4 linked regions of the Homo sapiens genome follow. The protein of the gene in region 3 purifies or fractionates together with the protein of the main gene of each other region. This does not show direct contact. Each region holds a gene or a part of one and is shown on either strand. Other genes may lie near its edges.

Evidence for each region.
Region 1: the proteins of RAET1E (region 3) and NCR3LG1 purify together in Homo sapiens (affinity purification with mass spectrometry; 2 studies listed by BioGRID and IntAct, with this or other methods). This does not show direct contact.
Region 2: the proteins of RAET1E (region 3) and RYK purify together in Homo sapiens (affinity purification with mass spectrometry; 2 studies listed by BioGRID and IntAct, with this or other methods). This does not show direct contact.
Region 4: the proteins of RAET1E (region 3) and ALG11 purify together in Homo sapiens (affinity purification with mass spectrometry; 2 studies listed by BioGRID and IntAct, with this or other methods). This does not show direct contact.

Annotation. Positions count from the first base shown.
Region 1 is NC_000011.10:17,361,775-17,368,799, reverse strand, and holds part of NCR3LG1 (natural cytotoxicity triggering receptor 3 ligand 1 precursor), read right to left. Parts: intron 1,792-7,025; coding exon 1,453-1,791; intron 1-1,452. UniProt on the Homo sapiens protein: Triggers NCR3-dependent natural killer cell activation.
Region 2 is NC_000003.12:134,240,836-134,247,860, forward strand, and holds part of RYK (tyrosine-protein kinase RYK isoform 2 precursor), read right to left. Parts: intron 1-7,025. UniProt on the Homo sapiens protein: May be a coreceptor along with FZD8 of Wnt proteins, such as WNT1, WNT3, WNT3A and WNT5A. Involved in neuron differentiation, axon guidance, corpus callosum establishment and neurite outgrowth.
Region 3 is NC_000006.12:149,895,096-149,902,058, forward strand, and holds the start of RAET1E (retinoic acid early transcript 1E isoform 1 precursor), read right to left. Parts: upstream 3,019-6,963; 5' UTR 2,926-3,018; intron 1,145-2,925; exon of another isoform or gene 1,038-1,144; intron 1,036-1,037; exon of another isoform or gene 938-1,035; 5' UTR 751-937; intron 1-750. UniProt on the Homo sapiens protein: Binds and activates the KLRK1/NKG2D receptor, mediating natural killer cell cytotoxicity.
Region 4 is NC_000013.11:52,022,373-52,029,397, reverse strand, and holds part of ALG11 (GDP-Man:Man(3)GlcNAc(2)-PP-Dol alpha-1,2-mannosyltransferase), read right to left. Parts: intron 5,393-7,025; coding exon 4,461-5,392; intron 1,080-4,460; coding exon 808-1,079; 3' UTR 594-807; coding exon of another isoform or gene 1-593. Other genes in the region: UTP14C (U3 small nucleolar RNA-associated protein 14 homolog C), read right to left, coding at 1-593. UniProt on the Homo sapiens protein: GDP-Man:Man(3)GlcNAc(2)-PP-Dol alpha-1,2-mannosyltransferase that operates in the biosynthetic pathway of dolichol-linked oligosaccharides, the glycan precursors employed in protein asparagine (N)-glycosylation.

The sequences.
Region 1 (7,025 bases), on a different chromosome or scaffold from region 3:
CTGCTGGGAACTGTGTGGTTGTGTCATCCTCCTTGTCAGAGATTTAACCACCAGCCCTCTGCCACATGTCTCAGCATCTCCATTCCTATCACATACACCTCCATACATCAAACAGTGTATGTAGCACTTGCCAAAAATATGGAAGATGAACACCACGTACCACATAATTGTGCTACCCTCATCTTCAAACCTTGTGTAATACGACACCATCTTCTATCCCTATGTGCATACCACATAGACAACCCCTCGTACCATACATGCAAGGTATATTTCCATTTCATACTCCCCATGGACACACATACCCTCCCTGCATCCCTGCACATGCCACCCACACACACACCTAGTCCTAACTTCCAAGAATAATTCCTCTCTCCCCAGGATCATCCTGGGCCCCATATGGCATTGCCTGACCACATTCCTCAGTGCCCCAGTCACTCCCTGCCTTCCTTACTCTTCTCAGCCCCAGGGAGATGCATTTTACCAGCAGAGCCACCCACACCCAAGACCAGAGCTATGACCAAGGCATATGAGCTCAAAAAGCCCCAGCCCACCAGCAGGAGTGGGTCTGCCGTGAACTGTGTTTTAAGGATCCAGTGTGCCTGGGGAAGGCATTGAGCATTTGCAGAACCACTCTACTGTAGCCCTCCCCATCTTGGGACACAGCCCATAAGACAAGACTACTGGCCGGGTGCTGTGGCTCATACCTGTAATCCCAGCACTTTGGGAGGCTGAGGCGGGCGGATCACCTGAGGTCAGGAGTTCGAGACCAGTCTGACCAACATAGAGAAACCCCATCTTTACTAAAAATACAAAATCAGCCGTGCGTGGTGGTGCATGCCTGTAGTCCCAGCTACTCAGGAGGCTGAGGCAGGAGAATCGCTTGAACACGGGAGGTAGAGGTTGTGGTGAGCTGAGATCACGCCATTACACTCCAGCCTGGGCAACAAGAGCGAAACTCCATCTCAAAAAAAAAAAAAAGACAAGACTACTGAGTCAGCCTCTACCAGCCAACAGTTTACAGTGGACCTAGAGCCTTATTAGAAGGGCTGCTAGCAGGACTGGTCCCTGGCCCCTGATAGCCCCTTATCCTCAGGGAACACGGGTAGGATACTGTCCCCATTCCCCTAGCAACTGGCAGGTTTCCTATTTCAAGCCATATGGACCATCCAAAACCCTGAAGCTGCCATGAGCTGACAAATAGCCCTGCTCCACCTGATGACTACAGTCACCACTCTCCACCTACTAAGACCATCATCTGCCCAGGTGTAGGGACCTAGGCTGGACTGCTGACTCTGGGGCTGAGCTAGGCCAGACTCCAGCTTGGTCCTTCCAGTCCAAGCTTTCTCTGTTTCCCCTTCAGTCCCCAGCTAAGACCCAGGCTGTGTGGGAATAAGTCTTATGTTATAGTCCCTCAAGGCAAGGAAGAGAAGAAATGTCCAGAAAGACCCTTACCAGAAAGACTGTGCCGAGCAGCAGTCAGGGTAAAGTTGCTCCTCAAGGGGGTATGCAAGGACGCATGCCGTACCACACACTGGTAGACAGTCCCAGGGTCTTCCTGAGAGGAGTTCAGCTTCAAGCAGCTAGTGACATTAAATGTGCCATCCATATTCTTGATGGTGGGACCAGTGATGACATCCTCAGAAATCTCTATGGGATGGGGAAACTTCTGGGTCTGCTTCTCCCATGTTATATTAATAGCCTCTGGGTAGAACCCACTTGACTCACACATATATTTGTCTTCATTCTCTTTCATGCCCACTTGATCCAGCAACAATCTGCTGGCTGGGGAAGCTGTCAGGGAAAAAAAATCATACAGAGTTGGGCCCAGCACCCTTTTATCCCCACCACACCTTATGCTAACTGGCTTCTACCATACCCTCACAGCTATGCATCACTGCTCCTGTAGCCAGATAAGACAAAAAACACAGGATGCCTACTCTTTAAAAATGCTGCAACCATGTCCAGCAATGAGCTGGAGATTTACAATACCAGACTGGGCACTCCTTAAGGGTAGGGAGGGATTAGCTTATTATCAGCCTGACATCTGAGCCATGGTAAGCCTTCAGGACATGTGAGTGACTGAATGCAAGTCAGCTTGGGCTAAATATTCTGGGTATGTTGGTGCCAGTGCCAACCGGGTACTGACATGCTGTGACCACAACTCTCACAGCAATTTTGTAAAGCAGAGTTTTCTTAAGCTGTGTTGTGAAACAGACACCTTTCATAATCTGAGGAAAGCCTTGGAACACTGTTGTGGTAGAGACTGCTAATTGCTCTTCAATTTCCATTCTGTGCATTTTTAGCTGGCCATGACATATCCAGATTAAACCTGTATCACCCAACCTCCACTGCAGGTATGTTTGGTCATGCAAACTCAGGGGTCTAGTAGGCCTGGATTTATGCAAAAGTGGCAAGAGCAACTTCTAGGAAGTATCCTTAAACTAAAAGGATGTCTTAAAAGACTGTCTCTTTCTCTCTCTCTCCTTATTTCCTGCAGAATGTTTGGAATACTATGTGATGACTGGAGATGGATAAGCCATTTCCAAACACAAGGTGGACGATACATACTGAAGATGGCAGAGTGACAAGATAAAAGGATCATGGGTCCCAGATGATCACAGAGCTAGCTGCCATATCTGCCCTGGGCTGGCTACATTAGTGTGAAAGAAAAATAAACTGCCATTTCCAAAGCCACTATTGACTTCCAGGTTTCCCTCTCACATGAGAGGTCATCACTCCCACCCTATAATAAGAACAAAAGCTGAACAAATTGAAAATCAACAGCTTTTCTTAGATTCCTCAGAGAATTGAAGTGACAGGGCAAACTGCCACTCAGAAAACTGGAGAAAGAAGGAGATTAAGAAAATTACAGCTAAGATCAAATCACCTCATGCAGAAGCTGCTGGAGTCATAAACCAGTAGAAGTACTTAAGCAGTAACTCCGACAAACTGCTAAAGGATGAGTGTGGACTAGCTTGAGAATAAAAACCTCCTCAGGTCCTGGTCTTAGGGATGCTTACCACACTTTCATGGGTTTTCATCCTCGGGACCCAGTCTTGGGGATGCTATCACACTGTCATGAGTTTTACTTCCAGGAACCCCACCAGATTCTCACAGTAAAGAGCCAAGAAAAATCTCCTCCTCTTTCTGGGGGATGGAAAGAAGTAATCATTTTAAAATATACCTAGATTATTCCCTCCATCTCAAGGGAAGATGTCAGAGCCTTATCTGACCTGAGAGAAGAAAATTAGCCAACTCCAGCTGTCTATAGCCTTTCTGTATTACTTAAGAAGAGAGAAAGAGAAAAGGCTAAGAAACACTTCTGAAGGCCACAGTCCAGAGGCTCAGGCCACTAAAAGAATAAGATTTAATCATAAAAGTATAAACAGATTCTCCTCCAACACTTTACTACCACATCAACAGGGCTCCAGTATAATAACAGAAGATTATAAGTGAGAGAGCTACAAGGCACAGAACCTATTTAAGGAGTTCATAAGGAAACCCAAAGACAATAGGAAAGGAGAGAAAAAAACACTAGAGAAACTGAAGTCTCTGGCACCTATAGCTACAATAAGCATTAAACACAACCCAGCTCCTAGCCAAATTAACATAAGGCCGCATAATAAAAGCCTATTACCTGATACATAATATCTCTCTTTCAACTAAAAAATTACAAGGCTAAAAAATACATAAAAACAAAGCAAACATCAGACCCAGACTCAGGTATGACACAGATTTTAGAATTATCATATAGGGAATTTTAAAAAACTATAATTAAAATGTTAAGAGCACTAACAGAAAGAGCAGATAACATGCACAAACAGATGGATAATATAAGCAGAGTGATGGAAATGCTAAGAACGAACCAAAAGTGAATGCTAGAGCTCAAAACACCATTAAAGAAATGAAGAATGCCTTCAGTGGGTTCAACAGTAGACTTGAAACTGACAAGGAGGCTGAACGCAATGGCTCATACCTATAATCCCAGCACTTTGGGAGGCCGAGGTGGGTGGATCACCTGAGGTCAGGAGTTCGAGACCAGCCTGACCAATATGGAGAAACCCCATTTCTACTAAAAATACAAAATTAGCCAGGGGTGGTGGCGCATGCCTGTAATCCCAGCTACTTGGGAGGCTGAGGCAGGATAATCACTTGAACCCAGGAGGCGGAGGTTGCAGTGACCTGAGATCACGCCACTGCACTCCAGACTGGGCAACAAGAGCAAAACTCCGTCTCAAAAAAAAAAAGAAACTGACAAGGAAAGAATCAGTGAGCTTGAAGATGTTAATAGAAACTTCCCAAACTGGGCACGGTGTGGTGGCTCACACCTATAATCCAAGCACTTTGGGAGGCCAAGGTGGGCAGATTGCTTGAGGTCAGGAGTTGGCGACCACCCTGTCCAACATGGCAAAACCCCGTCTCTACTTAAAAAACAAAAATTAGCCAGCATGGTTGTGCACACCTGTAGTCCCAGCTACTCAGGAGACTGAGGCACAAGAATTGCTTGAACCTGGGAAGCAGAGGTTGCATTGAGCCAAGATCCCGCCATTGCACTCCAGCCTGGGATACAGAGCAAGACCCTATCACAAACAATTTTTAAAAAAGAAACTTCCCAAACTGAAATACAAGGAGAAAAAAGAATTTAAAAAAAACCCCAGAATAGCCAAGAACTGTGGGATACTGCAAAAGGTGTAACAGATATATAATGGGAATACAAGAAGAAGAAAAGAGAAAGGAGCAGAAGAAATAATTTGAATAAATAATGGCTGAGAATTTTCCAAAATTAATGATAGACACCAAACTAAAGACCCAGGAAGCTTAGAGAATACCAGGCATGATAAATATCCAAATATGCCTATCCACGTCTAGCCATATCATATTTCAACTTTAGAAAGACAAAGATGGCCAAGCATGGTAGCTCACTCCTATAATCCCAGCACTTTCAGAGACCAAGGCAGGTGGATCACTTGAGCTCAGGAGTTCGAGGCCAGCCTGGGCAACATAATGAAACACCATCTCTACAAAAAATACAAAAATTAGCCATGCTTAGTGGCACCCGCGTGTGGCCCCAGCTACTTGGAAGGCGGAGGTGGGAGGATCACTTGGGCTTGAGCCCACTAGGGTGAAGCTGCAATGAGCCGTGATCATACCACTGCACTCCAACCTGGGAAACAGAGTGGGACCCCATCTCAAAAGAAGAAAGAAAGAAAAGAAAAGAAAAGAGAGAAAGAGGAAGGAAGGAAGGAAGGAAGGAAGGGAGGGAGGGAGGGAGGGAGGGAGGGAGGGAGGGAGGGAGGGAAAAGAAAGACAGAAAAAAGTCACAGGAAAAAAAACACACCTTACATATAGAAGAACAAGAACAACACTGGACTTCTTGTCAGAAACAATGCAAGCAAGGAGAGAGTGAAGTGAAATATTTAAAGCATTGAAACTTAAAAAAGAGAAAAACACCAACATGGAATCTTATATCCAGAAAAATTTTCCTTCAAAGGTGAAGTATAAATAAAGACTTTCTCAGACAAACCTTTCACCAATAGACCTGCTGTGCGAGAAACATAAAAAGAAGTGCTTTAGTGGGCCAGGCATGGTGGCTCATGCCTGTAATCCCAGCACTTTGGGAGACCAAGGTGGGAGGATCACTTGAGCCGAGGGAGTTCAAGACGAGTCTGGGCAACATAGACTCCATCTCTTAAAAAAAAAAAAAAAATTAAATTAGCAGGGCATGGTGGTGCATGCCTGTGGTCCCAGCTATTCCAGAGGCCGAGGTGGGAGTATCGCTAGTGCCCAGGAGGTCAAGGCTGCAGGGAGCCATGATCGCACCACTGCACTCCAGCCTGGACAGCAAAGCAAGACGTTGCAGGAAGAAAGGGAAGAGAAGGGAAGGGAAGGGAAGGGAAGGGAGGGGAGGGGAGGGGAGCGGAGGGGAGGGGAGGGGAGAAAGAAAGGAAGGAAATGAAGAAATGAAGAAAGGAAGAAAGGAAGAAAGAAAGAAAGAAAGAAAGAGAGAGAAAGAAGGAAAGAAGGAAGGAAGGAAAGAAAGAAAGAAAGAAAGAAAGAAAGAAAGAAAGAAAGAAAGAAAGAAAGAAAGAAAGAAAGAAAGAAAGAAAGGAAGGAAGGAAGGAAGGAGACACTGAGTCAATAACTAGTAAAAAAAAAAAAAAAGAAGAAGAAAAAAATCACCTTCCAAAAAGGAAAGCACCAGGTTCGGATGGTTTCACTGGTTAATCCTACTAAACATTTAAGGAATAAATAATGCCAGTTTTTTACAATTTCTTCCAGAAAGTAGAAGTAGACAGAGGGAACACATTCTAACTTATTCTACAAGCCCAATATTATCCTACTGCCAAAACCGCATAAAGACATTACCAGAAAAGATAACTACAGATCAATATCACTCATTAAAGTAGATACAAAATCCTCAAGAAAATATTAGCAAATATAATCCAACAATACAGAAAAAATTACATACCATAACCAAGAGAGGCATATTACACATATGCAAGGCTGGCTTATCATTCAAAAATTGGTTAATGTAAGTCATCATATCAACAGGCTAAAGAAAAAATTATATGATCATACCAATAATGCAGAAAAAGTATTTGACAAAACCCAAGACTGATTCATATGAAAAACTCTTAGCAAACTAGGAATAAAAGGGAAACTTCCTCAACTTGCTAAAGAATATCTACCAAAAAATAGCTAATATCATATTTCATGGTTAGAAAGTAAAATCAGAAATGGACAAGATGTCCCTTCTAACCACTCCTGTGCAACATTGTAATGGAAGTCTAAGCTAGCATAACAGGACAAGAAAAGGAAATAAAAGGTATAAAGTTAGAATGGAAGAAATATGAGGCCTGGTACAGTGGCTCACACAATGTAATCCCAGCACTTTGGGAGGCCAAGGCAGGGGGATCACTTGAGCTCAGGAGTTCAAAACCAGCCTGGGCAACATAGTGAGACCTCACCTCTGTAAAAAATAAAATAAAATAATGGAAGAAATAAAACTGTATTTTTAACAGACA
Region 2 (7,025 bases), on a different chromosome or scaffold from region 3:
TTCTCCTTGCCTGCAGCTTCTTGGCTGAAAAGTAACCTTGCTATTGCTCTTAATCTAATGACAATATCTCATTCATTTTATGATTTCCCTGCAAGGGCATTACTACACAGCTATTGCTGTAAGCAAATAATAAATACCACCAGTGAATTTTACAATTCTGAAAGTTGTGACAAACACATGCATATGCACATAAAAAAGGTGGAGGCCTGGTATGGTGGCTCACACCTGTAATCCCAGCACTTTGGGAAGCCCAGACAGGGTTGGTGGGGGAGGGAAATCACTTGAAGTCAGGAGTTCGAGACCAGTCTGGCCAACATGGTGAAACGCCATCTCTACCAAAAAAAAAAAAAAAAAGATACAAAAATTAGCCACGCGTGGTGGTGCACGCCTGTAGTCCCAAGCTACTCAGGAGCCTTAGGCACGACAATCGCTTGAAGCTGGGAGACAGAGACTGCAGTGAGCTGAGATTGCACCACTGTACTCCAGCCTGAGAGAAAGAGCAAGACTCTATCTCAAAAAAAAAAAAAGAAAGGTGACAAACTATGTATTTAAGTTCCCTTTACAGTATCACCTTTTTATAATATCATATTTCATTTAATCTAAAGTACATCCTTATTTTTTGTGCCACTAAGAAAGAAAAAAGCTATTAACTGATGACTCTCCCCACTGATTATAACATGGTTCTGATTTCAGAGACGTTCAAATGTGGAAAACCTGTACCTCCTGTAATTAATTAAACATGGCATTCAAAACGTTAATTTACCTGAGCCCCATCTCAGATCAATTCAACAAATTGCTCAGGGTAGGTCAAGGAATCTGTAGTTTGTTAAAGCTTCTCAGATGATTTTGGTTAAAGACTAAGTCAACTGTCAACCTTCAAAGGCAGCACAGTAGAGAAAGCACGCACTTTGGAGTCACATAGCCCCACACATCTCTGTGACCTACAGCAAATTCTGTTAATTGCCCACAACCTCAGCATCTCAGCTTTATCTGTTTAAAAACAAACAAACAAAAAACAGTCAATGCCACCGACTTCCTATGGTTGATAAAAGAGAACATATGTAAAGTACCTGGCATACAGCAAGATACGCTCTTCCTCCTCCTCCCTAAATTACAGGTGATCCCTAACTAGAGACTTGTGTGCTGTCTATTCCAGCTTAAAATTTATATAAGAATGAGAATGAGGCCGGGCAAGGTGGCTCACGCCTGTAATCCCAGCACTTTGAAAGGAGGCCAAGGTGGGTGGATCACCTGAGGTCAGGAGTTCAAGATTGGACTGGCCAACATGCTGAAATCCCATCTCTACCAAAAATACAAAAATTAGCTGGGAATGGTGGTGGACGCCTGTGATCCCAGCTACTCAGGAGGCTGAGGCAGGAGAATTGCTTGAACCCAGGAGGCAGAGGTTGCAGTGAGCCGAGATCATGCCATTACACTCCAGCCTGGGTGACAAGAGCAAAACTCCGTCTCAAAAAAAAAAAAAAGATAAGAATGAGACCTATGAAATCCACTCAGCATTATCACTGCTGAACACACAAAAAGAATCATTCAACAACTGTTTATTATGTAACTGAGCAATACACACACGTTTATTTTGGCACATTTTAAGAGGACCTTCACAAATGAATGCTGTTTAATAAAATTTTTATTAGAAAATATTGCACTTGATTTACATCAACAACGCACAAAAATGTATACCTTTAAGTGTGACATAATTTTAGAGTAGCTAATGGTTCTGTTTCATGTACAAGTTTTTGTTTTGCTTTAGGATGTGTAGCTGGCAAGATTTTTCAGAACATTGGCGTAACTGCATCAAAACACCAAAAGTAATGCTATGGAACTTCTCAACTCAGGTGCCTGAATAAATACTCACATGTTTGATTTGTCCCAAAAGTGATTCTTAAAATCCAAACAGCATTTTAGGCAGCACCTTTGGAATTGACCAGTCAACTCAGGATGTGACTCACAGGGGACAGGTTTAGCCATAATTGGATAGAGTTCTCTCACATGTGTAGCATGAGGAAAAAAAACAACCCTCAAACCCACAATTGCACAATGTCTCTGCCTGTCTCCCAATGAAGAACACATGGATTCAAATAAATACCAACTCCACCAAAACGCCTAGGGTTAAGGATTTGCTGCAGAGTGCTAACCTCCCAAAAACCCACCCAGGATCTGGGCCCTCTGGCAGGTTATGCCAGACTCATGGGCAGAGGACACCTTCAACCCTCCACCCCTCCTCCCCACCAAGCATGGGCTCTGAGATTTAGGAGAGAGGGGTGCTGGGAGGAGAGGAATACATGGTTCATCTCCTTTTTCTTTCCCTTGACCAACCACTTCTCCCAAAAGGAAAGGGTCCTTTGGTTCAGTTGCCCAAATCTGAAACCCTAGATTCCTCTGTGACTCCTCCCCTTTCTTTAGCCCTAAAGTCTCTTCTACTAAGTCTTCTCCAAACTCACCAAATTCCTCACAAATCCATCCCACCCCTTCAACTGCCTTAGTTGATCCCTCTTATCATCACAAGGTTGGCTCTATCTCATTTCCCAGATCCAGCATTTCATTCTCCAAAGCCATCCTTTTCACTGGGGCCAAAGTTATCTTCCCTATAACCCAGACCTGACTGCGCACTCTCCTAGTCTGCATTCTTTAGCAGCTCACTGAAGAATTCACCTGTAAGAGTTCAAATTCCTACTCTAACCTCAGCCTACCTTCCAGCTTTATCCTGTGGCGCTCCATGGCTTTGCTAATTTTTCACCTCAGCCACATTAGATTTTTCCTACCCCACAATTTCACACAGCTGCTTCCACCCTCTATGTCTTTGTTCACACTACTTTCTCAGCCTGGTATGAACTGCTCTTTTCTGCCTATCAAATTCATCCTTCAAGATGAGGCTCAAATGTCTTTTTTTTCCCTGGGACAAGTTTCCTAAACTCTCTAAGCCTGTCTCCCCTCCGCCCTTTCCACAGTCAAAAGTAAGTGCTCCTACAATAACTTATGTCAACCAGCAATATAACTCTTATCTCTGTTACAGTCATAAATGCAAGTCTCCCCTACAAAATTCTGAGATCTTCAGGGAAAGGAGTGTAATAATTTTGAATTGTCATTTTCTACCACAATATATGGTACTTGGTTTAGCTTCAAAAAAATTTTCTGGACTGATTTGGGACACAGTGATTTCAACTAGTATTGACTTGATTTTAAATAAAATGTGAACATTCTTGACTTTTCCAGAAGATATTTATTTTAAGAGGAGAAGCAAGTTATCCAAAGTTAATTTCTAACTGGTGGGAGATGGGGCCTCTTCCCAAAAGTCCCCCTGACCCCTATCACCACCACCACTGTTGGCATAACCAGTTTATACCATTCCCCACCCACCCACCAGCATGTTCTTCCCAAGCTTCTGGCACTGCCCAGCCATATGCCACCTTCACAGGCTCCGGAATTCCACAGAGCTCAGTACAATGAAAATTATCAATTAAAGAACATGGGAGGATGCAAGAATAATTAGCATAATAATAAAGACCACAAACAAGCACCTGTGGCAGGAGGCTTGCGGTTCTACTCTTTGAGTTTTTGGTTAATTGCACTCCTCCAGAGCTGATAAAGAGACAGTATGAATTCAGGTCTCAGGCAGGACTGAGTCAAGACCTGGCCTTCTACTCACTGTCCAAAAGGCCCTGAATCAGGGTCCTCATCAGTAAAATGCAGAAATGAATGCCTACATTGCAGCCTGTTATGCAAGTAACAGGCTTGTAAATGCAAGCGATGAACCAGGGCCCAGGAACACAGGAAGGCCAACCAGAGTTTAAAAGCTTCTGAAGCTTTCGGTGTTTCAGAACTTATACACTTCCATCAGGACCGTGTGCCCTACTACTACCAAAAAACCAGGCTAGTCATTAATACATACCTACTCTAAGATTATTGTTTTCTCATTTCTCTGTGTCACCCCAAAATTTCTATGTTGAAATCCTAACCACTAAGGGATGGTATTAGCAGGTAGGGCCCTTTGGGAGGTGATTAGCTCATAAGAGCAGTCCTCATGAATGGGATTAGAGCCCTTATAAAAAGACCCAGGGGAGCTCGTTTGCCCCTTCCACCATGTGAGAACACAGGGAGAAAGCAGTATCCATAAACCAGGAAGAGGGCTCTCAGCAGATATCAAATCTACCAAAGCCTTGATCCTGGACTTCCCAGCCTCCAAAACTGTGAGAAATAAATCTCTGTTGTTTACAATCCACCCAATTTATGGTACTTTGTTACAGCAGCCTGAGCAGACTAACACTCATCTATAAAATGGAAATGACAGTACATAACACAGGGATGACCTCTATGCCCCACACAGACAAAAGACAGCACTTTTAAAAGTGTCAACTACTACTACAACCACCATTAACTACTCGTAATATTGTTCATATAAAAAGACTGCCACACGTCATCTTCAATAGTTAAACCCAAACCCTAACTGCCATTTACACATTGTGGAATGACCATAATCCCTTACCTCCATTTCCTTCCAAAATTCCTCTAAAATGATAGTTTAAAAAAAAAAAATCACAAAGACATCAAACCATAAGGACAAACAGAAAAGGAAAGACAACATGCTTTTTTAAACAAACTTTTGCAAGATGGCAAAGTACTTGAAGGAATGGTCACTGCCCCTCAGGACCTCCAAGAGGCTCAGGTCTTGAGGCACCAAGGAGATGCCAAAGGCTGATGTGAGGCTTAGCCTAGACAAGGGGGGAGCCACCGAAAGAGGTGTTCAAAGCTTTTGGATCCCCAGTTCCAGCAGGAAACCCAAAGTTTTTTCTGAAGAAACTGAATCACAGTGACAGGAGAACTGTAGCCAGAAGTCGAAGGCTACAGCCTCCATCCCTCCCTCAGCCAGGTAACCCAAACCCTGGCAGCTGGCATATCACCAAGCATACCAGAGGCAGGAGATGATGATTTCTTCATTGTGAACACTGGCCCCAAACGAGATGTAAAGGTGTTGATATTCGGGGCAGACTCCCAATGAAAAGTCCACCTGAACTCACAAGTCACTAGACCACCAATACACACATGTTCTCTCCTCTGCAATCAGCTCCTCAGGATCTTTTTCTTCATTATAGACAGTCAAGGATCACCAGATATTTATGACTTAAACAAACAAAGAAAAGATCCCTGAAATGAATAACCACACTGGAGGAAACAGAAGAAATATTAAAAATATATTAAACACAAAGAAAAAATAAAAATACACACATCAGAGATAAGTAAAGATAATACATCCATAAAATAAGATGCAATGAAATGGAAACAGAAAAAGATTCTAAAATTTAAAAACATGATCATTAAAATTGAGAACCATTCCCCCCCTCCCACTCCTTCCAGTACAAAGAAATACGTAAGACATGAGATTAGTTAAGAAAATTTAAAGATCATTTGTAGTGGGTTCAACAACCAAACCAACAGACATCTCAGAAAGAAATACACACACACACACACACACACACACACACACACACACACAGAGAGAGAGAAAATAAAGGGTGGGAATTATTAAAAAAAAAAAAAGCATTTCTGAAAACTAAAAAGAGTCTCTAGATTGAAAGGACCCACTAAGGTAATACAAGAAAGAAAAGGAAGAAAGGAAGGAAAGAACCAACCAACCAACCACACAAAAACTTATAAAACTTCAGAATGCCAGAGAAAAAGAACCTGAGCTTCAAAAAAACAGAAAAAAAGAGGCATCAGAATGGCTTTGGACTTTTCATCAAAAACCCTTAAGACAGAAAACTGTGAATATGCCATCAAAATTATGAAAAAATGTATTTCTACTTAATATTTTAAATTCAGCCAAACCATCTATAAAGTATGAGGACAGGATAGATACATTCAGACATTCAAGGCCTCAAGTAATTTATCTCCCATCATTCCTTCCTAAGAAGCTACTGAGGATACATACATAGTAGCAAAATGAAGCAAACCAAGAAAAAGGAAGACAGGAGATCTAAAAAACAGAGGTTCCAAGACAGGAAAGAAGTAACAGGAAGTCCCAGAAAAAATAATCGTACTATCTAGATTGGAGCAAGAGGATGGAATGCTCCAGACCAAGAAGTCTCTAAGAGGAAACCAAGTGGCACTGATAGATGATTTAATGTGCTACCTGGAAAAAAAAAAAATCAAAAGGCATTTAACATACTTCTTGGAGTAGTTGAGGGAACACAGCCAAAGATAAATAGGTAACGAATCAAAACGCAATTTTGATAAAATGCAATTATTTGCTGTGGGAAAAACAAAAATGTATAAAAAAAATCATAAGTCACTATTTAGCAATACCTGTGTACACAATAATGTAAATACTGCTATTTTTACAAAAAAGTTACGTAACTACATTGGAGGATTTAAGAGAGAAATGAGAAAGAGCTCAGTTATGATACTAGAAAGTCAAAGACTTATTCTACATTGATTTAGAATGACGAAAGTAAAAAAAGAGGAAGAAAAAATAAACAGACCTAGCTGAGGTAGTAGCTACCCCTGGAAAGTAGAGCCTGAGGGATAAAAAAGACAAAAGCAAGAGCCTGCTGTGTTTGTCAAAAGTCTTTTAAGCCGGATGCGGTGGCTCACACCTGTAATCCCAGCACTTTGGGAGGCTGAGGTGGGTGATCACCTGAGGTTGGGGGTTTGAGAACAGCCTGACCAACATGGAGAAACCTCGTCTCTACTAAAAATACAAAATTAGCTGGGCATGGTAATGCGTGCCTGTAATCCCAACTACTGGGGAGGCTGAGGCAGGAGAATCGCTTGAACCTTGGAGGCAGAGGTTGCGGTGAGCTAAGATCATACCATTGGACTCCAGCCTGGGCAACAAGAGCGAAACTCCGTCTCAAAAAAAAAAAAAAGCCTTTTGGTTCTCTTAAAACTATATGCATATATTAACTGGATTAAAACAATTTATTCTCATATCAAGGGTAATTAGTTCAATTTATAAAGTTGTCACTATCAACTTCATTTATAAGTTTCTTACTTGGAACTCTAAACTGTCT
Region 3 (6,963 bases):
GCAGCTAAGATTGCTGCCTGTTCCTTCCTCTGGAAGCTTTGACCCAGTGGGGCACCTGCCAGATGCCAGCCAGAGCTCTCCTGTATGAGGTGTCTGTCGGCCCCTACTGGGAGGTGTCTCCCAGTCAGTATACGTGGGTGTCAGGCACCCACTTGAGGAGGCAGTCTGACCCTTAGCAGAGCTCGAATGCTGTGCTGGGAGGTCTGCTGCCCTCTTCAGAGCCATCAGGCGGGGACATTTAAGTCTGCTATAAGCCCCTGATTGGGGCTGCTGCCTTGTTTACCAACATGCCCTGACCAGAGAGGAGAAATCTGGCAGTCTGGCCATAGCAGCCTTGCTGAGCTGCAGTGGGCTCCGCCCAGTTCCAACTTCCCAGCAGTTTTGTTTACACTGTGACCTTAAAACCATTTCCTCAAGCCTCAGCAACGGCAGAGGTCCTTCCAGATGAGTTTTGTAATAGACTCCAGCAGTCCTACTGGGGCCAAGACCTCAAGGAAAGCCAAGTCTATCATTGGGAAAAGTCTTAGGGCTCTAAGTTTTGAATTCTGAAAATTTTTCTTAGAACAAAATTTTGTGTCATTTTCAAATAAAGCACAAGTTTTCCTCATAAAACTTAGTATCTGTAGACCCCCTTCCCACCTCACTTTTACAGCTGTCCCATTTGATCATCAGACCCTGCTACCTTAGCCAGTTCAGGCTGCTACAACAGAATAGACAAGGTGGCTGAAACACCAAGCATTTATTTCTTACCTTCCTGGAAGATGGGAAGTCCAAGATCAAGGTGTCAGCAGGTCCGGTATCTGGCGAGGGCCCTCTCTTCCTCACCAGATGGCTGTCTTCCTGTTGTATCCTCACACAGTGGAGAGCAGAGACAGACAGCAAGCTCTCCTATCACTTCTTAATCCCACATGGCTCCACTCACATGAGTTATGACTTCCTAAATAGCATCACCTTGAGAATTAGGATTTCTGCATATGAATTTGGAAGGCAGGCAAACATGCGGCCTGTAACACCACCCATATCCGTTCCACATCTAGGTTCCCTCTGTGTGCCGGGCAGTATGCCAGTTAATTCAAGTGCATGTCAGACCCAGAGGGTGACATCCTGTGACTCAGATGCTAGGGCCCTTATGATGCCTGGTAAGGTAAGTGGGTCTTTACCACTGTCCTTTCTTAACTAGATGGAACAGACTTCAAAGAAAGTAACCATGGACTATCGGCAGGGCTCTATCTCTGGGGCTGGGGGATAAGGGGTTGTCTGCTCAGAGGACAGTGGGTCAAGCGTTTGAAGGAGCCGAGGAATGCACATTTTTTACATGTCCCCTATGTGGTTCTCTGTCTGCTAAGGTTAAAGAACCTCAATTTTGAGGGTGCACTTCCACCTCTTGGTCTGGAGAAGGGGTCTCAAATCTGTCCTGAGTGGAGCCTGTTCTGTACACATCCAGGCCCTGAGAGTACACAGAGAGGAACTCACTGCTACCGCCCTGCCAATACTGCTGCTGTGGGGACACCAGCGGGGGTGGGCCAAGAACAGAGTGTATGTGTGTGTTTGTGTGTGTGTGTGTGTGTGTGCATGGGTGCTTGTGTGTGTGTGCGTGCATATGTGTGATATGACCACTGAGTAGCTCCTTAGCAGGGCCAATATTTTCTACAAGTCTGATGACTCACAGGAAGGAGCACACCAGGCCTATACTTGGGTCCTGACATCTGGGATGCCAACCTAACACTGAAGAAAAAGAAAGAGCTGCAGACAGGCTGGGAAAAATATACAGAAAGGGGAAAGGGGCCCTTCCACCTTTGTTGCCCTCTGTGGTCCTGAATCTCAGCTTGGCCTGAGCCAACCTGAAGATGGGAAGGAATAGCCATTTTCCAACTGCAAAATGTCAGCTTCAGGCAATGGTTTCAAAACTGAAGTAATGGTTACATATGAAGTAGATTTTTGTTTGTTTTGTTTTTTGAGACCAGGTCTTGCTCTGTCATCCAGGTGGAGTGCAGTGGCATGAGCACGGCTCACTGCAGCCTTGAACTCCCAGGCTCAATCAGTCCTTCCACTTCAGCCTCCAGAATAGCTGGCACTACAGGCATGAGCCACCACACCCAGCTAATTTTTAAATTTTTGGTGTGGAGATGGGGTCTCATCACGTTGCCCAGGCTGATCTCGAACTCCTGGGCTCAAACAATCCTCCCCCCTCAGCCTCCCAAAGTGTTGGGATTACAGGAGTGAGCCACCACACCCGGCTGAAATGGAATTTTAATTGAAGTAAGAAGCGGGTGATAAGGAAAGTGAAACCAATAATTTCACATAGTCCCTGGAAGCCCGTTGCTATAAAGAACTTTCAGCCTGAAGTCCAAAGAGAGACGAAAATTTTAAAATGAATTGGACTGCAGTTTTCAATCCCTGAAAATGAGTCACAGCCTTTTTGTGGCAGTGTGCCCTGGGCTTCTAACCGTCCTCTCCCTGCCCCAGCTGCCTTGAGGTCCCGGCCAATGGTTTCAACACTCAGGCTAGGAATGCCAAGGCCCGGCAGAGCGAGGCTGTGGAAGCCTTGGCATAAGCGGAAGGGAGGATCTGAGGGAGAATGGGACAAGAGAAGTCGGAAAGAAGGAGTTAGGGCAGGAGAACAAGGAGAAATCCCTGTCCCCCAAATTGGAGAGAGGGGCGATTGGGACTCCAGACTGGAAGGAGGCACGGATCCCTGAGTGCTTGGTGTGGAGGCAGAGGACCCGCAGAGCCACCCCGTCCTCCCTGCCTTATCCAGCGTCCCCGCCGCCACACCCCCAGCATCTCCCCCAACCCCACTTTTACTTCATTATCTGCCCCTGGTTCTCTCACCACTCGAGCCCCTGCTTTCCTCCTTCACTCCCAAACATGCACACGTTCCCTCTGCACGGGTGTTTGGAACACCAGCCATCCCCCACCCCCTACCTTGTGCCAGCAGGAGATGTTTGTCCTTCTGCCGTCTCTAGGATGGAGAGGCCTGAGGTGACTGCTTCCTCAGAGTCTCTGTGCAAACTCTCTGAGGAGCAGAAACCAGTTCAGTCTCTCTGGGTGTGGAGAGGCCGGCCTAGCAGAACACCCGTCCACCATGCAAACCGGGTGGGGCCACCTGTCAACTGTCACGTGTGAGTGATTCTAGGACAGGGTAACTCGTCCAGAATTGGATCCAATTCAGTACTGGATTCACCATCAGTAGAAGGACCAAGACCAGACTCAAGTCCCAGCCACGAAATTCTAGAAAGGATTTAATGTAATTTTAGCAGTTGTTGGAGACCAGCATGTGATGGCATACATATGTTTTCCTTGATATGTAGGTGGGGGCCCCCACCTTTTTTCAGGGTTTAGGCTTCTGCAGGTCCTGGCATAGCTGTGACAGCGGCCCTACCTCATTTCTGGTGGGTGCTGGCTCCCTCTATTGCTTGGTTTCTGTGCAAACACTGCATTATCGTCCTGCCCTCTTGAGACCTGGAGCTCCTGCCCCCTGAGCTCGTGTTCGCACTGTGTGTCACTGAACCTCGCTGTTTTCTTCTTGCAACTCCATTCCCCTCTGCAACTGGAAGACCAGCACTTCTCCTGAGTCTTCCTTAAAAGACACCCTGCCCACTTCCTTACAAAGCCCCCACCAAAGTGACACCAGCTACTTGTGAATGTAGCCAACTTTACTGAAGATTTAGAGGTTATGTTATAAGGCTGTGAATAATTTAAAAAAAAAATCACCTATTTGCTCGACCTCTTTCTTATCTCTTCTTTGGACTAGAAATAAAATATCTATGATTTGACCACACTGTCATCTAGTACTCGACCCTGGTTCTAGGCCACCGTCCTCCTGGCCAGGGTGATTGCAGTGCTGCCCTACTTGGTTCTCCGTGCCTGTCCCCACCTCCCAAATGGCTACAGCGCAGCCAGAGTGATCTTCAGAACCTCATCACTCACGCCCCCCTCTGCTCCAATTCTCCAAAAGTGCCCTTTTTCTCTCAGTAAAACCAAAGTCACTACAGATGCCTAGAGAGCCCTGCACAGTCTGGCCAGCTGTCCATTATGCCCCCTCACTCGCTCAGTTCCGACCTCCACCCTCGGCCTCCTTGCTGGTCTTCAGAGCCCTGCAGATGTCCCCGTGCCTTGGGACTTTGCATTGCCCTCCCTTCAGCATGGACTGCCCTTCAGGCATCTGCCCGGCTCACTCCCACTCCTGCTCCCAGGTGGCACACCCTTCCACGCCTGGTTCTCCCTGCCCCTCGCATTTGGAACCCTTGTATTTCTTTCTTTCTTTCTTTTTTTAAAATTGTGGTATGATTCATGTAACGTGATTTTTCATCTTAACCACTGTTAAATGTAAAGGCCTCTATTTCATAATGGGAGACCTCTGCCTGCCCAGGCCATCCTGGACCTTCTTCACCTGAACTTGTTCCCCTAAAGCAATGACCACTTTAAAACATACCTTAGTAAGCCGCGCACAGTGGCTTACACCTGTAATCCCAGCATTTTGGGAGGTCAGGGAGGCTGGATCACCTGAGGTTGAGTTTGAGACCAGCCTGGCCAACATGTTGAAACCCTGTCTCTACTAAAAATAAGAGAATTAGCCGGGTGTGGTGGCCAGTGCCTGTAATCCCATCTACTCAGCTTATTGAGTCAGGAGAATCACTTGAAGCCAGGAGGCGGAGGTTGCAGTGAGCCGAGATCACGCCACTGCTTTGCAGCCTGGGCAACAGAATGAGACTCTATCCCTATAAACAAACAATCAAACAAACCTTATTAACTTTTAATTGTGGTTGCAACAAATTACTGCAAATTTAGTGCCTTAAAACAACATACATTCATTCTTTTACCATTCTGGAGCTCAGAAGTCTGAATAGTCTCACGGAGCTATCATCACTGTGCTGTCAGGGCTGTGTTCCTTTGGGAGGCTCTCGGGGAGAACCTGTCTCCTCCTTGCCTTTTCCAGCTGCTCAACTGCCCACGTCCATGGCTCAGGACCCCATTTCCTCATCTTCAAAGGCAGCTCCACCAGGCTGAGTCCTGGTTTACATGAGAACACTACCCCTCCATGGCTGGTTTTCCCAGGGCAGCTGATTAGCCACCTCAGCTCCATCCACAGCTTTCACCGCCCTTTCCATGTACCCCAACACAGAGGTTCCAGGGACTGGATCTGCCATCCTGAGGATTGGAGAGGGAATTCTTCTGCCCAACACACATACCATATAATTTACATATCTATCCATTTAAAATTTCTATCTCTTACTAGAATGCCATTTCTGTGAAGACAAAAACCTCATACAAGGCACAGAAAACAGCTCCCCAGGGGTGAAGGGGCTCAGATGGGCCCCCTGGCTCAGGGAACAAGGAGAGGTGTCAGGGCAGCCTCCCTGGGTCTCCAGCCTTCACAGCCGGTGCCTCCCAGGCAGGTTCCAGCCACAGCAGCAGCAAAAGAGATGTGGTGGGCAGCATCAGGCATTGGCGAGATTCCTGACACAGTTCAGTCGAAAAGAAACTTCCTAAACTGAGCTCACCTCAAGGAAGCTGGAGATAAATGCCACCTTACCCAATGGGTACATGAAATACAAATACAAATCCTTTTCCAGGTTGTGCAGGTTACAACTGGCCCAATTCTATGCCTGGTCCCCTGCCCTGTCCTGCTGTGACTTGCCAGGGTGGGGTGCTCATTGGCCTCCAGGCTCCACTCACTTTTCTGACCGCACCCAGTTTCCACCTCCAAGTCACCCCCCAGACTGCTTCTCCTTTTGCTGTTTTTTCTCAGCCCAGCAGAAATTCTAATATTCGCCAGGCTTGGCCCTGCTCAGGGCACCGGAGAAGGAGCCTCTGAGGAAAATCTTGGCACAAGGAGCAGCTCTCCCACCTGGATTTCCAGCACCCTCTGTTTTCTGGGAACTCCTGAATTTCTCTGGCCATTGGCACAGGGGCTCTGCCACGCAGTTCCCCTGGCGGCTGGCCCCTGACATCTGGCAAAGAGTTAGGAATGCAGGTGTTTCTGGCAAATATGTAGGGCCTATGAGATAAGAAAGTGGGGGAAGCAAGATCACGTAGGTTCTCTGTGAGAGAGGCCGCATGCCCAGCAGGACAGAACATCCCTGGCTGACAAGGGCCATCTTCCCCTGTCCTTATCTCTGCCTGGGCTCCAGCTCCGTCCTGCCTGACAGAGGCCGTGGAGCAGAGCACTGGGCTGCTGGTCAATGTCCTGGTCTTTAGATAGACCAGTCTCCGGATGGGGTCACAGTGGGAGAGCAGTGGGCCTGGGAGGTGCAGGGTTAGTGCAGGGCAGGGCTGCCTTGAATCTGCAGGTGCGGGGCCACCAGGCTGGACCTATCTGTATGCTCAGCACAGGAGGTTGCAGTATTGCCTGCCCTCAACCTCCTTTTCCTATTTCTGCTGCTAGAGGGCACTGGGGACTGGGGTCAGGCTGGGGGTCTTGCCATCCCCTCCTGATCTCCTCCACTCCCTGTCCACAGCTCCTGATTTCCCTGCCTGGGCTGCCCCCACCAGAAGTCTCCAGGCCTAAAATCCAGTAGGAACAGGCAGCCTAGCCTGTCCCCAGGGGTTTCTTTAGCACTTGCAGGAGTCAATAAGGCTTCAGGTAGGAAGGCCTGATGCCTTCCTCATCCACAGACGCCTAACAGGTGTTTCTGGAAATGTATCCTGTGGCAGCCAAAGAGGCTGGACTCCTCAGTGTGTTTCCAAACAGAGCCAAACACAGAGTTCATCGGTTGGAGGAGCCCAATCAGCTGCTCATTAGTGTGCCTTTGACAAGCCTTTGTACGGCGGGGAGGAAAAATGATTTTCATGAAAAAAACAAACAAACAGGAGTTTATTATCTATCTATCTATCTATCTATCTATCTATCTATCTATCTATCTATCTATCTATCTATCTATCGTCTCTTGTATATACACAGGAAACACCTGGAGAAAACAAGTAATCCTTAAAGTGCTGGCTTAGAGCTCCAGCATCTTC
Region 4 (7,025 bases), on a different chromosome or scaffold from region 3:
ACTGGCTGCTTGTTCTTATGGAGGAGGTTAAAAATTTCCTGCTCCAGGGGAGTTCTTGCCTTCCAGCCACTGAGCGCATGTTCAATGGGAGCAATGGCTGGCTGCTCCTTCCCCAGGGGAAAAACCAGCTGCTCTGCCTGCTGGTTCTTCAGGATGATAGGGTCCCATTTGGAGAGGACCTGTGAGGTTTTACTGAATGCTACTTCTCTGTGGATCTGTTCAATTTTTTCTTTGTTAAGAGGTAACTCCACCACCTTCTTTGATTTGACTCTATTCAGTTGCTTTTTTACAGTGGCCAAAGAAGATGAAGTTTTAACGGGCTCAAGCAGATCTGCAAGGCCCAGCTTTTCTCCTGATCCTTCAGAACTGACACTGAACTCTGACACTTTCAGACTAGCCTCAGACCTCTCAGCCAATTTCCGCCTATTCTTTCCATCAAGGGAAATGATTGCTTCCAGAAGCTTTTGATGCTTTCTCTCTCCATCACTGTCCCCCTCATCTTCATTTTCACTCAAGGGGTAGTTTTTTGGCAAATCCACTAGTTCTTCCTGGTGGCTCAAAGCCAGATTCTCTGCAACCTGGTTCACATTCATCTCAGCAGCCAGCCTCTCTCATGTATACCAAGAATGGAAGCCGAAGGCTAGTCATCCATTTTCTTTTCAACACTTCCTTTTATTCTAAAAGGAAATTTTGTCTGTTTTCTAAAGTAAAATGATTTGACAAATGAGATTGAATTTAGAAAAATATTTACATATGAAGGTGTTTAACCAGTTTATATAAAATATCTTTAATTTTACAGATATGGCATTACTTAAATAACTTTTCCACAGATGATAGGAATGTCACTTCAAATTCCTGATCAGAGAATCTGCTTACAGATGCACGAGCACTTTTTCTGATTTGGAGTCTCTTTTCTGCAGACATGGAAAGAATGTGAGCGATAGTTTCAGCATAGTCTTCTTCACTCTCAGCCAGAAAGCCAGTTATATCTCCTTCGTGAGGAACCACAATGTCAAGCTTTGGGCCCCCCGAATTGTGTGCAAGGATAATTGTGCCAGCTGCCATACACTCCACAACTCCTGAGAAAAAAAACACAAATCATGTAATCTTTTAAGTTTTTGAGTGTGTTCATAAGAATGAGGATGAATAGAAATCTTCAAAAAATTTAAGGGACTTATGAGAAACTTAATTAAATGTATGTCTAGACATTTGCTTATTCAACTTCTACAGTACAAGATAAAATAATTTTAAGTTTTTTAGTTTTCAAAGCTTCATAATAATACTGCTTCACTTTTTTTTTTTTAAGAGATAGGGTCTCACTATGTTGCCCAGGCTGGCCTCTAACTCCTAGCATCAAGTGGTCCTCCCATCTTGGCCTCCCAAAGTGCTGGGATTTACCAGCGTGAGCTACCACACCCAGCCTGCTGCTTTATTCTTAGTTAAAATAGACAAGTAGATGGAAGACTAGCCTATTAAAAAAGATATATTGCAGATAATTAAAAAAGAAGACTAGAGAATGTTAGCAAGATGGTAGAATATTAACAGGTATTAGAAAAACAAAAGGAGTAAAAACATATAAAAAACAATTTTAATAGTTCAAATTACATTAGCAGAAAAAATAAAAAAGTGAATCACCTAAGTGAAGCATACTATCGCCGTGCTTATGTTACTGCCTGGATTTCTGGCATATTTGAGACTACTGCATGCCCAACAACAGTGCTGAACTAAATGAAAGTTGTGGTTAGTTTCTGCCAAATGATACACATGAAATATAAATTACTCTAGCCAGCCCTTCTTAGCCATATTCCTAGGAGAATTAAGCCCTTCAGGGAATGATTCAAGTGACTGCTTTCCCAATTATCTGAAGGATGGTACAGAGCTGATATCATCCTGGATGTATAGGAGAGAAATTAAATCATTCCAAATGTTTTTAGAACTGGTGAAATCCCTGCAGAACAGAATTCAGTAGCTCATATCATATTCTGCTTGAAGCTGGAGAGCATCCTGTACTTTCTCAGAGACCTGCATCTTTTACCCTTTCCCTCTCTACTGGCTCCTTCCTATCAGCTAGGAAGCTAGGGCACCACATGCCCTTTCTCAGGTCCTGCAACACCCACCCCTAGCCACTGTCTCTTCTCCCCCTCCCCGTACTTCACAGATAAACTTACTGAAAGTGTGGTTTGCACTTACCAACTCTACTTGTTCACTTCTGAGTGCTTGACTTTTGATTTTTGCTCATAGTCTGACTTTTGCTTCTACTTCTCCCTCAAGACTGCTCTTGCCCAGGTCACCAGTGACTGCCTTACCTTCCCCAGCATCTGGGCAGCATCGGAATCTGTGCCCTCTCCATTCTTCTCCAAACACTCTCTTCCTTGGTTTCTAAGACACTGCACTTGGATGGCTTTCCCCGCCTCTCCATTTCTTCTCCCCATTTCTCAGCTGTTCCTGTTCTCTGCATTTTGTACTGAGAGCCTCTTTTCACTCTGTACATATTCCCCAGGCGATCTTAACCACATCCACGGGAGCTTTGATAACTACCTGCACAAGGACAATCCTCATTTTTTATTTCCAGACCAGACTCCTCTCAACTTCAGACTCCTATATACAAAACTACCTCCTGGACGCATGCCCTCACATGTCCCACAGATGAACTCAAATTCTGCAGGTTCAAAACTTGGCTCATTAATGGCATTTGCTCTTGGATTTCCCCTCTGGGAGAAAGCCAACACCATTCTCACAGCTGCCCTGCTCCCAAAACCCTAGGTAGTCTTCTCTTCCTCCCTCATTTAACACATCCAGTTAATCACCAAGTCCTGGTCAATACTACTGCAGAATGTTTCTCAAGCATGTTCACCTACGAAGTTCAGCTCATGAGCACCTCCATCTGGGCTGCTACAGTAGGCCGGCTCATCTTACTGCCCTTCCAGTCTTGCTCTCCCTGCTCTTCACTGATCCACTCCCCATGTGGCCAGAATGGACTGGAGAAATCAGAAAGCTTTTACGTGCAATACTTAAAATCCTGCTATTTTTTTCCACTGGCTTAACCTGGCCTATATCACCTCTCTGTTGTCTTCCTGCTGAATGTTCCTATTGATGCATCTGTTGTCACTCCTGTCACAGTGCTGTTCCCTCTGCTGGAGACTCTCCCCTCTCTCCTGGCTAACCTCTATTGTTCGGGTCCTGCTCAAGTGTCACATCATTTCCTTGGGCAACTGTTCCCTGCCCGCACAAGTCTGTGTTAGGTTTCTCTTTGGCGCTTTCACATCACCCTGCACTTCCTTAGCATAGCACCTGGCACACGGCACAGCACGGCACGGCACTTGCCTGTGTAGCCTGTTGGTACCACCAGAGGGTGGGAAGCCTCTGACAGGCCAAGCAGCTCCTGTCTCCACCACATCCCTAGCATCCACCCAAGCGCTCAGCAGAGTGAATGCTTAGTAAGTTTCTATGGAAGGAAGCACAGGAGGTCAGATCCCATGCAACAGGTTGGGTCAACAAGTTCTTGCTTAATGTCTGGGCCTAGCACTACACTACTAACTAGGAGTAAAAAGAGTATAAGAGAAATTGAAGTCTTAGTTTAGGAAATGTCACTTTTATGTTATCCTCATTTCCCCTAACAACTAACAGTGTGAGGCACAAAGCGCTTGAGAAATATATGTGGACCCAAATTAAACACAAAGCAGTACTTGATTTTATAGCAAAATGTGTGCTTAACAGGTCAGAATAGAGATAGCAGTTTGTGCCAGAATAAACAAGAAAGGCTAAAGTGCAAGGAGATTTAAGTTGAAGACTTATGATGCAATCTGGCACAAAGAGGAGAGCCATTCCAATGGTGAGGGTAGAATCAATAAAAGACTAAAAGAGTTACTGTGAGAAGCCCCTATGCAAACAGTGGTTCTCAACTTTTGATGCATAACAGAATCACTTAAGCAGCATTATCAAAATACATCTACCTGGGCCTTGTCCAGAGATTCTCATTTGGCCATTCTGTAGGATTAGGGTAGGGCCCAGGAATCTGTACCAGTAAGTATGTAGTGGGGTTAGATGGAGAGAGAAAATGTTGCTGTTAAGAGCAGGGGCTATCTGGGTTAGAATCCGGGCTCTACCACTTACTGTGTAACTGAACTCGAGCAATTTCTAAACCTTCCTGTGCCTGAGTTTCTTTATTTATAAAATGGGAATAACAATAACACCTATCAAACGGGTTTAGAAAGGCTTAAATTAGATAATACATGTAAAAATCTCAACACAGTGGCCCACACACAGGAATTGGTCAATAAATACTAGCTGCTATTATTAACTACTATCTTACAAGGTCTCAAGTGAGGAAAGCACATTTGGTGGATGAGGGCAAGAGAATTAGGGCATGATGCAGATTTCCAGAGTATTATCATTTTATCAAAAGAACTTAAAATGTGTATCTCATGGCACCAAACAAGTTGTTTAAAGGCCAAACTCACCAATCCCAAAATGCTCGTTCCACATGGTATGCAGACCAATTGTTGCTTCAGACAAATAATTCTTTAATTCATCAAATGGAATGTTTATTTTAAATTCCACATATTCTTGAACTCCTAAATCCTCAGACAGCCTTCTCAGTTGGTTTACCCTAAGTTCATCATCTTTGTTACGACAACCTCCAATGAGGACAAGTTTAAGCGAAGGAGGTGACTCAACCATCTTCTTATTCAGCAATTTAGCAAAGGCTCTGATCTGCAATGGATGATTCTTTTCCGGCCTAAACTGGCCAACAGAAACCAGCAAATGTCCTGGGGTCATCTTTTTCTCATGTAAGGGAATGTCCAGAAATGTCTGCACATCACAAGGTGGATAAACAATGTTAGTGCAATTCCCAACTTTCCATAGTGAGAGAATATGGTTTAGTGTCCAAGAAGAATTGACCATGACTACATCACTGCAAGAACCAACAAGTCCATAAATAAAAGCAAATAAATAGTAGTAGATGAGCTTTACTTTGCTGAGAAAAGGATTCCTGGTAATGAAGGCTGCATTATTAAATCCAATATTTTGATTCTTCACTACAGAGAGCATGTCGGTGCTGATAGTAGGATAATGAACATAGCTTCCAACTTGGCAACCCCCTATATACTTAAACAGAGGAAGCGTAAAAGCGTATCCCATTGAATCAATGTAAACATCAGGAACACACTGCATTAGAGCTTCCCAGCCAAGAAAAATGGATCCTAGACTTTGGCCCAGCAGTGTGAAGTGAGGATACAGTGAATCTTCCACAAGATAGCGTTTCCTTAAAAAAACAAACTGCACTGGGTGAATTAATCTGATGTTAAATCTTCTGAAAGCACCTTCTAGTATCTGTTGACCGTTGACATTAACATCGCCGGTATAAACAACATAAACTGCTTCAGGATACCTAAAATAGAATGTAATGGTTAAGAATATATTAAGTTACAAAAATTAGCCAGACACGGTGGCACGCACCTGTAATCCCAGCTACTCAGGAGGCTGAGGCAGGAGAATCGCTTGAACCCAGGAGGCGGAGGTTGCAGTGAGCCGTGATCATGCCACCGAACTCCAGCCTGGGTGACAGAGTGAGACTCCATCTCAAAAAAAAAAAAAAAAAAAAGCCTGCTACCTACCCTGAGAGACTGAGAGCCGAGACTGCATCACTGCACTCCTGCCTGGGCAACAAGTGTGAAACTCCGTCTCAAAAAAACAAAAACAAAAACAAAAAAAAGAATATATTAGGTTAAAATCAAGCAAAAAGTTGTAGATAACTATTTTCTTACAGTTATAAAGAAGATTTGATTTTTTTTTTTTTTTTGGAGACAGTTTCACTCTTGTTGCCCAGGCTGGAGTGCAATGGCGCCATCTTGGCTGACAATCTCTGCCTCCCGGGTTCAAGTGCTTCTCCCGCCTCAGCCTCCCGAGTAGCTGGAATTACAGACATGCACCACCACGCCCGGCTAATTTTGTATTTTTAGTAGAGTCAGGGTTTCTCCATGTTGGTCATACTAAAAATGATGTTTTCTACATTTTTTATTGAATTAGAAGTACAGTCCTTCAAATGAGACCATGACTTCTAGTTCTTTGCTATTTCCTCCACTGAGGGTTTCACACAGAACAGGCATCAACAGTAAGTGTTGATTTATGAATGAGATGGTCTAAAGAAATACTAAAAAGTTTTGACAGTGTTCTTAGTAAAAAAAATGGTAATAAAATACTATAAACAAGAATTAAGATTCAACAAACCTGTCTTCAGATAGGATCACAATACTAAAGCAATACTCAGGGTTTTTATCTGAAAAATGCAAGTCTTTAAAAGCTAGATCTTGTGCCTATATCACAATTAGATATAATTAGTATGAAAATATCTAAAAGTATATTCTTTAATGACTTGTAATACTTTGGTCTCCCTCTGTTTATAATTATTCTTTGAGTCATAAAACATTTATTGGCTGGGTGCAGTGGCTCACGCCTGTAATCCCAGCACTTTGGGAGGCCGAGGCGGGTGGATCACCTGAGGTCAGGAGTTCAAGACCAGCCTGACCAATATGTGTGGTGTGGTGGCACATGCCTGTAATCCCAGCTACTTGGGAGGCTGAGGCAGGAGAATTGCTTGAACCCAGTAGGCGGAGGTTGTGGTGAGCCAAGATCGCACCACTGCACTCCAGCCTGGGCAACAACAATGAAACTCCATCTGAAAAAAAAAAAAAAAAACAAATTTATTAAGCATCTAGTAATGAGATGCCAGGTTTTGGGGGTATGGAGATGAGAGAGAGTCTTTATCTTCAGAAGTTCAGTCCAGTGGAGAAAACAGACATGCAAAACAAATAACTGCAAAACTGTGTGCTACGCATTGATAAAGACACCCACAGGATGCTGGGGAAGCCTAAAGGATGACAATCTAACTGCTCCTCTCTGGCCCCTTCCCAGTCACTCTTTACCCAGCAGCAAGAATGAGCCTTTTAAAATGTGAAAAAAGATTGTGATCTCTGGTAGCCTAAAAATGCCCACAAATTCCATTTGTTTTTTCTTTCTTTTTT